Linked DNA regions of Homo sapiens. The protein of the gene in region 1 purifies or fractionates together with the protein of each later gene. This does not show direct contact. Each region holds a gene or a part of one and is shown in the gene's direction. Other genes may lie near its edges. The genes, in order: NDRG2 and LRRTM4.

What was found.
Region 2: the proteins of NDRG2 (region 1) and LRRTM4 purify together in Homo sapiens (co-immunoprecipitation; one large-scale study listed by IntAct). This does not show direct contact.

The regions. Positions count from the first base shown.
Region 1 is NC_000014.9:21,022,141-21,026,526, reverse strand, and holds the start of NDRG2 (protein NDRG2), read left to right. Parts: upstream 1-1,465; 5' UTR 1,466-2,497; exon of another isoform or gene 2,498-2,551; intron 2,552-3,019; exon of another isoform or gene 3,020-3,205; coding exon of another isoform or gene 3,206-3,211; coding exon 3,212-3,286; intron 3,287-3,621; coding exon 3,622-3,663; intron 3,664-4,029; coding exon 4,030-4,135; intron 4,136-4,344; coding exon 4,345-4,386. UniProt on the Homo sapiens protein: Contributes to the regulation of the Wnt signaling pathway. Down-regulates CTNNB1-mediated transcriptional activation of target genes, such as CCND1, and may thereby act as tumor suppressor. May be involved in dendritic cell and neuron differentiation.
Region 2 is NC_000002.12:77,515,772-77,519,580, reverse strand, and holds part of LRRTM4 (leucine-rich repeat transmembrane neuronal protein 4 isoform a precursor), read left to right. Parts: coding exon 1-1,263; coding exon of another isoform or gene 1,264-1,269; exon of another isoform or gene 1,270-2,923; intron 2,924-3,809. UniProt on the Homo sapiens protein: May play a role in the development and maintenance of the vertebrate nervous system. Exhibits strong synaptogenic activity, restricted to excitatory presynaptic differentiation.

The DNA.
Region 1 (4,386 bases):
GTGGTGAGGGTGGTGGTGGGAGGGTGGTTCCCAGGCAGGAGGGGGCAGGGAAACTTGGGGGTCTTGGGGGGGCAGTCGGTGCTGGTGTTGCAGTTGGCAGCTCAAGTTCCATTGGCCATTGTTCCTGACTGGCCTGGCGCCCAGCCCCCGAAATGGCAACTCAGGAACCAGTCTGAAGGGGGTTGGGGTGGATATGATCCTGGGATTGGGGGAGCTACAAGGGGGGCAGGTGGGGAGAAATTCAGTCAGGTTTCCTTTTGCCTAAACAACTTCGAATTCCCTTAAGCCACATTTTTAATCAACTAACTCATTCCAGGGAGCCTTCCTCCGAGGGGCACAAGGAGAGCTCATTCCAGGGTGTGTGTGTGTGTGTGCGTGTGCGTGTGTGTGTAAAGTCTACAGTGGCAAACCCACTCGGGCACCGAGAGGGACGCGGCAGACCCTGAGACCATCCCCCGGGCATTGCGATTCAGCGGGCCTGAGCTGGTCTCCTATTCTGGGCCGGACTGGGAGGGGTTAGCGGCGAAGCCACAGGGTCTCTTGGGTCCCAGCCCAGGACACTGCGTCCTCCCCAAGCCCCTACTCCACCCCCGCAGGGTTAACTCCGCCCCTGCGCCTGTTTACCCAGGAGTCAGAGCCTCTGGGGGTCCCCGGCCCCTCCCCCGCGCCCCTTGAGGCATTGACCCCAGAGTCCCTGTTGGCCATCCTCTCCCCACCCCCCGCCTGCCCGCGATCGCCCTCTATTTATAGCGGCCCCCCGCATTCCCCGCCCCCACCTCCCCGCCTTGTTGTCCAACTTCTCCCGGAGCAGCCGGAGAGCAGGCGTCGGGACGCAGCAAAGAGAGGAGAGGTACCAGGACTCTGGGCACGAGGGAGTCGGAACTCCTGCGCCCTCGACGTTCCCCCGTGCCCCCTTTCGGCGCCAGCACACCTGCCCCTGCCAGCCGGCGAGACCCCCGCCTCCTCAGCGGCGGTCCCGCCCACCTCCTCCTTTCTTAATCTAGTTCTCTGTGTTCGGGCGGGGGGAGTCGAACTCGTGGGGTGTCAGTATCCCGGGTTCGTCTCCCCACTACCGGTTCCCACCACTGAGTCTGGGGGCGAAGGAAGGAGCCAGAGTGCAATTGCAGATCCAGGTCGTGGATGGGGCGGTGCTGAGGGCAGCCGAGGGATCCCTCTCAGGGCTGAGGGATCCCCGCACTCCCCACACCGCCCCAATGCGGGGAGGGGGTGGTGGAATGTTTTGGTGAGCCGAGCAGAGCCTGGAAGCGTCCAGCCGCCCGCCCCTCGCCCCCCGGCCCCAGCACAACCCTTTCCTGAGCGGCAGTCTGGGCGGGGTGAAAGGGGGGGCGTGTTTACTGGGGGTCTGGGGCGGGTCTGCGGGGAGCCTAGCGCCCGTGGGCGGGCTGGGGCGGGCCGGGGGCGGGTCTGCGGGAAGCCCGAGCCGGGGCGGGCCCGAGTCAAAGGCAAGTGAAGGTGGAAGCGGCCGCGGCGGCAGCAGGTAGGGGGAGGGGCAGGCGAGGGGCCGTAGGGCCTGGAAGGCGCCAGCCGGGCCGGCGGGCGGTGTGATTGATCCGCGTCCCCTGGAGCTGGAGGCTCGGGGGAAAGGGCCAGCACGGAGCGGGCGCTCGGTTGCTGCGCACAAAGGCTGAGGCTCCAAGAGCTGCAGGGCGTGTTTGGGGTGCGCGCGAGGTTGTGTGCAAGGTCCGGGGCGCTTGGCACCGGCCACGCAAGGGTGTCAGTCTCCACGCGGACGGGCTGCGTAGGGACTCGTAGGGACGGGTTCCGGGTGCTGGGCCCGGCCGGTCTCCTCTGTCCTACCCATCCCTTCCCGATGGCGCTTGCCTTCGCGGGCCGTCGGGGGAGAACGGGAGAAGATTGTGGGACCGCTCTCCTCTCCCTTTCTCCACTCGTGGGACCTACACGGAGACTGAGTAGAGGAGAGAAGCGACGGCACCAATCTTTGTGTTTGTTTTTAAATTGTGGAGGGAAACAGCCATGCTCTGCTACCCTCCTCTTACTGGAGAGCTGTCAAAAATTTTGGGGATCCCCTATTCCCCCGCGTTTAGTCCCCCTGCAGATAGAAAATTGAGGCCAAATGTAGTAACTAACTGGGGCAAGGTCACACTGGGAGTGGCAGAGCCGGGATTCGAATCCGGAGGTTCTGACAGGGCCACCCTCTTACCTCCACATCAGCACTTCCTTCTCTCCTCCGCGCAGCCTGAACTGATGCCCTTGTAGCCTATATTGATTCCGGCTCGAGCCTAGAGAGGACGTGTTCTCTGGACTTAGGGGTAGACAGACACTGGGGAGGGTTAGTGACCCGAGGAGGTTGATGACCCTGGGAGTCTGGGTCTTGGCTGAGGCTTTCCGTCCCTGAAAGACCCCAGGTCTGTCTCCCATGTCATTCACCTCGTTGCTGTGTTTTCTCAGACCCCAGAGTCAGAAGGAGTGAGAACCCTGACCCCTAATCCCACTGCATCCAGCCAATAGGAGCCCAGTAAGTGACCCCACCCCGCAGGCTGCAGGCTCCTTCCTGTGCAGGTCTGTCCAGGTGCTCTGCTCCTCACCCACTAATGTTGAACTTGCGGAGTTTATTCAGAGTTGGGAGGAAGGGTCTTGGGAGGAAGGGAGGCATTGGGTTGGTTGGACAGATGTCCCTTTTATGTTGTTTTCCCCACCTCCCCCATTGGTCATGTTGCTTTGGTCATTTTTAGCCCCCTTTGAGCTGCCGACTTTGGGGCTTTAATTGAAGGTCATGGTCAATTGTGAACTCTCACAGTCCCGTCTTTTGGTACCCTGTCCTTTAGAATACTCAGTCACTGAGCTACAAGTTTCACTCCCTACCTGAGAGTGTGGGGTGGCCCCTAAATATAGCCCGAGAAATCTGAGCTACACTTCTGCCCCACCCTGGTATTTTGGTCCAGGGCAGAGGAGGGAGGGGTCTGGAGGTGTGGTGTTGAGGGTGGCAGTGGGGATGGTGAGTATCAAGAGAAGGGCTGTCCTGATTCCTCTTCCAAAGCTTCCACCGATCAGCCTGGAAACGGAGCTGGGGGCAGGAAAGGCCCTCTGTGTGTTCTAGAGTAGTCTTCAACCCCTGGGTCCCTCTGTTCCCTGCATCTTCCTGTGCTGAGAGAGGAAGCCTGGTGTTTGAGGCGATGTGGGGATGTAGAGACAACTTCCCAGTCTCATTTCCTCATCCTGCCAGGCCACCATGGCGGAGCTGCAGGAGGTGCAGATCACAGAGGAGAAGCCACTGTTGCCAGGACAGACGCCTGAGGCGGCCAAGGTTATTAGAGACCGTTTGACTCCCATGCCCAAATTCCAGACCTCTAAGCATCCCCCTTGCCTTCTAACTTCCCAAGCGTACTGATCTTATTCTAACTCACACCACTGCTTCACCACTACCCTAGTCTCTCTCCCCATACACTATAATTGGGAGTCAGGCCCTTGTCTCGTCACTACACTAACCTTCATCCTTTCCGTGTCTCTCTTTGTCAATCTCTTTCTGTCTTTGGTCATTTGTTGGTCTGTCTTTACTTGCCTCTCTTTGTCTGTTTGTCTCTCCATCTGGGACGCCACATGGTCATGTGTTTCTGTGTGAATCCGTGTGTGTCTCTCCAGGAGGCTGAGTTAGCTGCCCGAATCCTCCTGGACCAGGGACAGGTAACAGTGTGGGGGCAGTCCCAAGGTGGGAGGAGGGGCTGTCCTCTTCCCCAGTAGAAGGATGGCCTCTGCTTGGCCCTCTCTTCTCTCTTTGCTTTCTTTCCTTCTATTCTAGTCCTTTCCCTTCCCTATCTCTCCCCTCTCCTTCCTTCCCCTCCTCTTCTCTCTCTAATCTTCATTATTCTTTCTTATCCTCAAACTCATCTTCCGGTATCATGTTTTCCTCAATTCTTGCTGATCCTGTTTTTAATTCTTTGTTCCCTTTTCCCTCTTGCCCACCCACTCCCAGCTCCCTGACCTTGGTGTTGCTCCTTTTCTGGCCTCGTCTCCTCTGAGCCTAGCTCTTGGTGCCCTGTTTTCCTGCAGACTCACTCTGTGGAGACACCATACGGCTCTGTCACTTTCACTGTCTATGGCACCCCCAAACCCAAACGCCCAGCGATCCTTACCTACCACGATGTGGGACTCAACTGTAAGGACCTTCATTCATCTCCCACTCCTGTCTGGGAAGAGGCTGTGGGGGAAGGGTAGAAATGAAACCCAGAGGGAGGGGAGGGGTCAGTGTGGGAAGGAGAAGTTCTCTCCTGGTCTGACTGTGGCATGAAAGGAAGGGTGAGTTCTGACTGGGGGACACGAGTCCCTGTCTGATTCTATTGTTGAGGTGATGTGGGTTCTCTTTAGATAAATCTTGCTTCCAGCCACTGTTTCAGTTCGAGGACATGC
Region 2 (3,809 bases), on another chromosome or scaffold:
ATTAGCTCAGTGGATGAAGATGCATTTCAAGGGATCCGTAGACTGAAAGAATTAATTCTAAGCTCCAACAAAATTACTTATCTGCACAATAAAACATTTCACCCAGTTCCCAATCTCCGCAATCTGGACCTCTCCTACAATAAGCTTCAGACATTGCAATCTGAACAATTTAAAGGCCTTCGGAAACTCATCATTTTGCACTTGAGATCTAACTCACTAAAGACTGTGCCCATAAGAGTTTTTCAAGACTGTCGGAATCTTGATTTTTTGGATTTGGGTTACAATCGTCTTCGAAGCTTGTCCCGAAATGCATTTGCTGGCCTCTTGAAGTTAAAGGAGCTCCACCTGGAGCACAACCAGTTTTCCAAGATCAACTTTGCTCATTTTCCACGTCTCTTCAACCTCCGCTCAATTTACTTACAATGGAACAGGATTCGCTCCATTAGCCAAGGTTTGACATGGACTTGGAGTTCCTTACACAACTTGGATTTATCAGGGAATGACATCCAAGGAATTGAGCCGGGCACATTTAAATGCCTCCCCAATTTACAAAAATTGAATTTGGATTCCAACAAGCTCACCAATATCTCACAGGAAACTGTCAATGCGTGGATATCATTAATATCCATCACATTGTCTGGAAATATGTGGGAATGCAGTCGGAGCATTTGTCCTTTATTTTATTGGCTTAAGAATTTCAAAGGAAATAAGGAAAGCACCATGATATGTGCGGGACCTAAGCACATCCAGGGTGAAAAGGTTAGTGATGCAGTGGAAACATATAATATCTGTTCTGAAGTCCAGGTGGTCAACACAGAAAGATCACACCTGGTGCCCCAAACTCCCCAGAAACCTCTGATTATCCCTAGACCTACCATCTTCAAACCTGACGTCACCCAATCCACCTTTGAAACACCAAGCCCTTCCCCAGGGTTTCAGATTCCTGGCGCAGAGCAAGAGTATGAGCATGTTTCATTTCACAAAATTATTGCCGGGAGTGTGGCTCTCTTTCTCTCAGTGGCCATGATCCTCTTGGTGATCTATGTGTCTTGGAAACGCTACCCAGCCAGCATGAAACAACTCCAGCAACACTCTCTTATGAAGAGGCGGCGGAAAAAGGCCAGAGAGTCTGAAAGACAAATGAATTCCCCTTTACAGGAGTATTATGTGGACTACAAGCCTACAAACTCTGAGACCATGGATATATCGGTTAATGGATCTGGGCCCTGCACATATACCATCTCTGGCTCCAGGGAATGTGAGGTATGAACCATGATCCTCCTAAAAGCATTTCTACTGCGGGGAAGGAGAGGTAAATGTTTGAAGCCCTAGAGGTGTCTCTAATCACTAGAAAGATTAATGACCCTTTTGCTTTTGGGTTTTGCTCAGTGTGAAAGGTTACTTAATTAAATTACAACCACCAGGAAATTGACTGCTTTTTTTTTTTTTTTAAATGGTTGAAACTTGAAGGAAGTTCATTCAAGGATAAGTTGGAATAAAGCACTATGTTAAAACATCTGCTTTTTAACAATTTGTATACAGGGGTTGGACTTAAAAACACACATACAAACAAAACTCTTTTCATTCTGAAATTTCTGTCTGGTTCTTGGTGTTTGACTGTTGTAATGGAGTAAAGAAGAGGGCCAGCTTAATTTAAAAATAAAGTGAGTTTACCAAAATTCCAGAAGGTAATGAAGATTTAAACCAAAGAGCAATTTTCCCAAGGGTTGATTTTGTTGTAAATTTTTAGTTTTAATGAAAGCATGCAACAGGGATCTCACACCCATGTTACTTGCCATTTAGTTATTATACCAGCATAGAGAATGTCAGAGGCCTACTGTGTAATTGTATCAGGCTCCTAAGGCTTCTTTCTTTTTTTTTTTTTGTTTCCTTCTTTCCTACTTTCTTTCACTCCTTCCTTTCCTTCCTTTCTCTTCCTTCTTTTTTTGTTTGTTTGTTTGTTTTTTAATTACTGGGATATAGATCCGATTTCAAAGGTTTTTATGCACTGGCTATTTGTGTTTAATCAGAATGAAACTTCAATTCCATGCTTTGGCTTTGTCCCTGGTAACTAAAATCAGGTCACAATTTTGTGGATGATTTAGCAATAATAAAATGGCAGTCATAACAGGGACTGTTTGTCAGTATTGCTGTCATCCCCAAAAGAAATGATATGTATTCTTGTTAAACTTATTAAAAAATAAGTGATACAAATATTTATAAATAAAAGGAGAGAGGTTTGAGTTCTGGGTATCCTCCCTTTCTGTAACAGCCTCAAATAAAGGTGTACCTTCCATGTTATATTATTTTTGTTTTTATAAGAATAAATTTGGACCCGGTTTCTGATTATTTAATTTAAAAGATCACTTACAGGATCATGTTAGTGAGCAGACAAATAGTCACAAATTTCAAACTTGTCAATAAGTAATGCTGGATGTAAATTGTTCTTTTCTTGGTAATGTTGATCATTATGTGCAAAGACTGACTACTAAGGCCTTGTTGCTGGAAGAAACTAGTGAAGAGAGGTTAAATTCTGGCAATATAATGTTTTAGTATCTGATTTTAGATGATCACTCTTTCAAAAGACAGTTTTAATGAGTAATTAAAGATGTTGCCCTTTCTAATGCTAGTTAACAGTTGGAAAATATAATTGCTCTTTGATAGCATATACTCCAATTTTTCCATAGTCCTAACTACAAATGCTAATGAAAATGTTTTCAGACAAAGCACTGAATTTGAAATAATCTCTAACTCAGTACAATTTGGACTATTGAACTGTTCTTCAAAGAATTCATTTTCTTCTTTTTTGTGTATCATTGAAAATAAGAGAAGTAATCCCAGATAATAAATTCCTAAAAGGAAACTGTATAAGCAATTGCCCTTAAAAATTAAAAAGAATAAAAGATTTTCTATAAAAGTCTAACAAGGCTTGATGTTTTTATTGCAGGCCCACAATTATACAATATACTTGAGTATTAGTAACACAAGTTCATCCTATTTTATTCTGGGTTCTCCTTATATTTTGTGATCCTCTTAAAGGCTGGTATATAAAAAGAAAAGAAAATTCTAGACGCATTAATTCATTTTCTCTTGACTTTTGGAGTAGAATGCTAACTTTTATGTTTAAGAATCACCAAGAAGAAAGAAACATTCTTAAAGAACCAGGATTTGAGAACTGGGGTTCTAAGACTTTTCCAGAGATCTTAAATTTCACAGATTATTCCATCAAAAACCCTAGGCATTACCATGACAGAAACAAGTTTAAAAGATGGTTCATTTAATTAAAACGTGTGTTTAAATAAACACATTTTGATATTGTATGTGTTATATAGATTGACATTTAATGTCATGAAATTGCACTAGTATTGTTGAAAATGAATGTGTTGTTAAGGCATTAAGTAATGAAGAATGTAATTAAATATTGTAATAATTCTGTTGAGTCAAAATGGAATCCTTACTAAAGTAGCTCAAACTTTCTGTGCCCTCAAACATGGACATTAGTAGGCTATACATTTAAGATCATATGTCCATTTAGGATGAGGAGGGGGGTGCTATAAAACTATATTTAAATGAATTTCAACTTGTTTTAAAACGAAAGCATACAAAAACAAACATTGCAGGGGTCACCCCATTTTTTGACAGAATGTTTGCTGTATTACAGTTATAGGTAGATATAAATGGTGAGGAAAAGCAAACTCTTAGAAATTGTTATAGGGAAAACCCTAATTACTTCTTACTTCTTTGTCACTCGGAGTAAAATTTCTCCTGTTGAGAAATATTCCTTTGGACAAAATCTCTCTACAAAATAG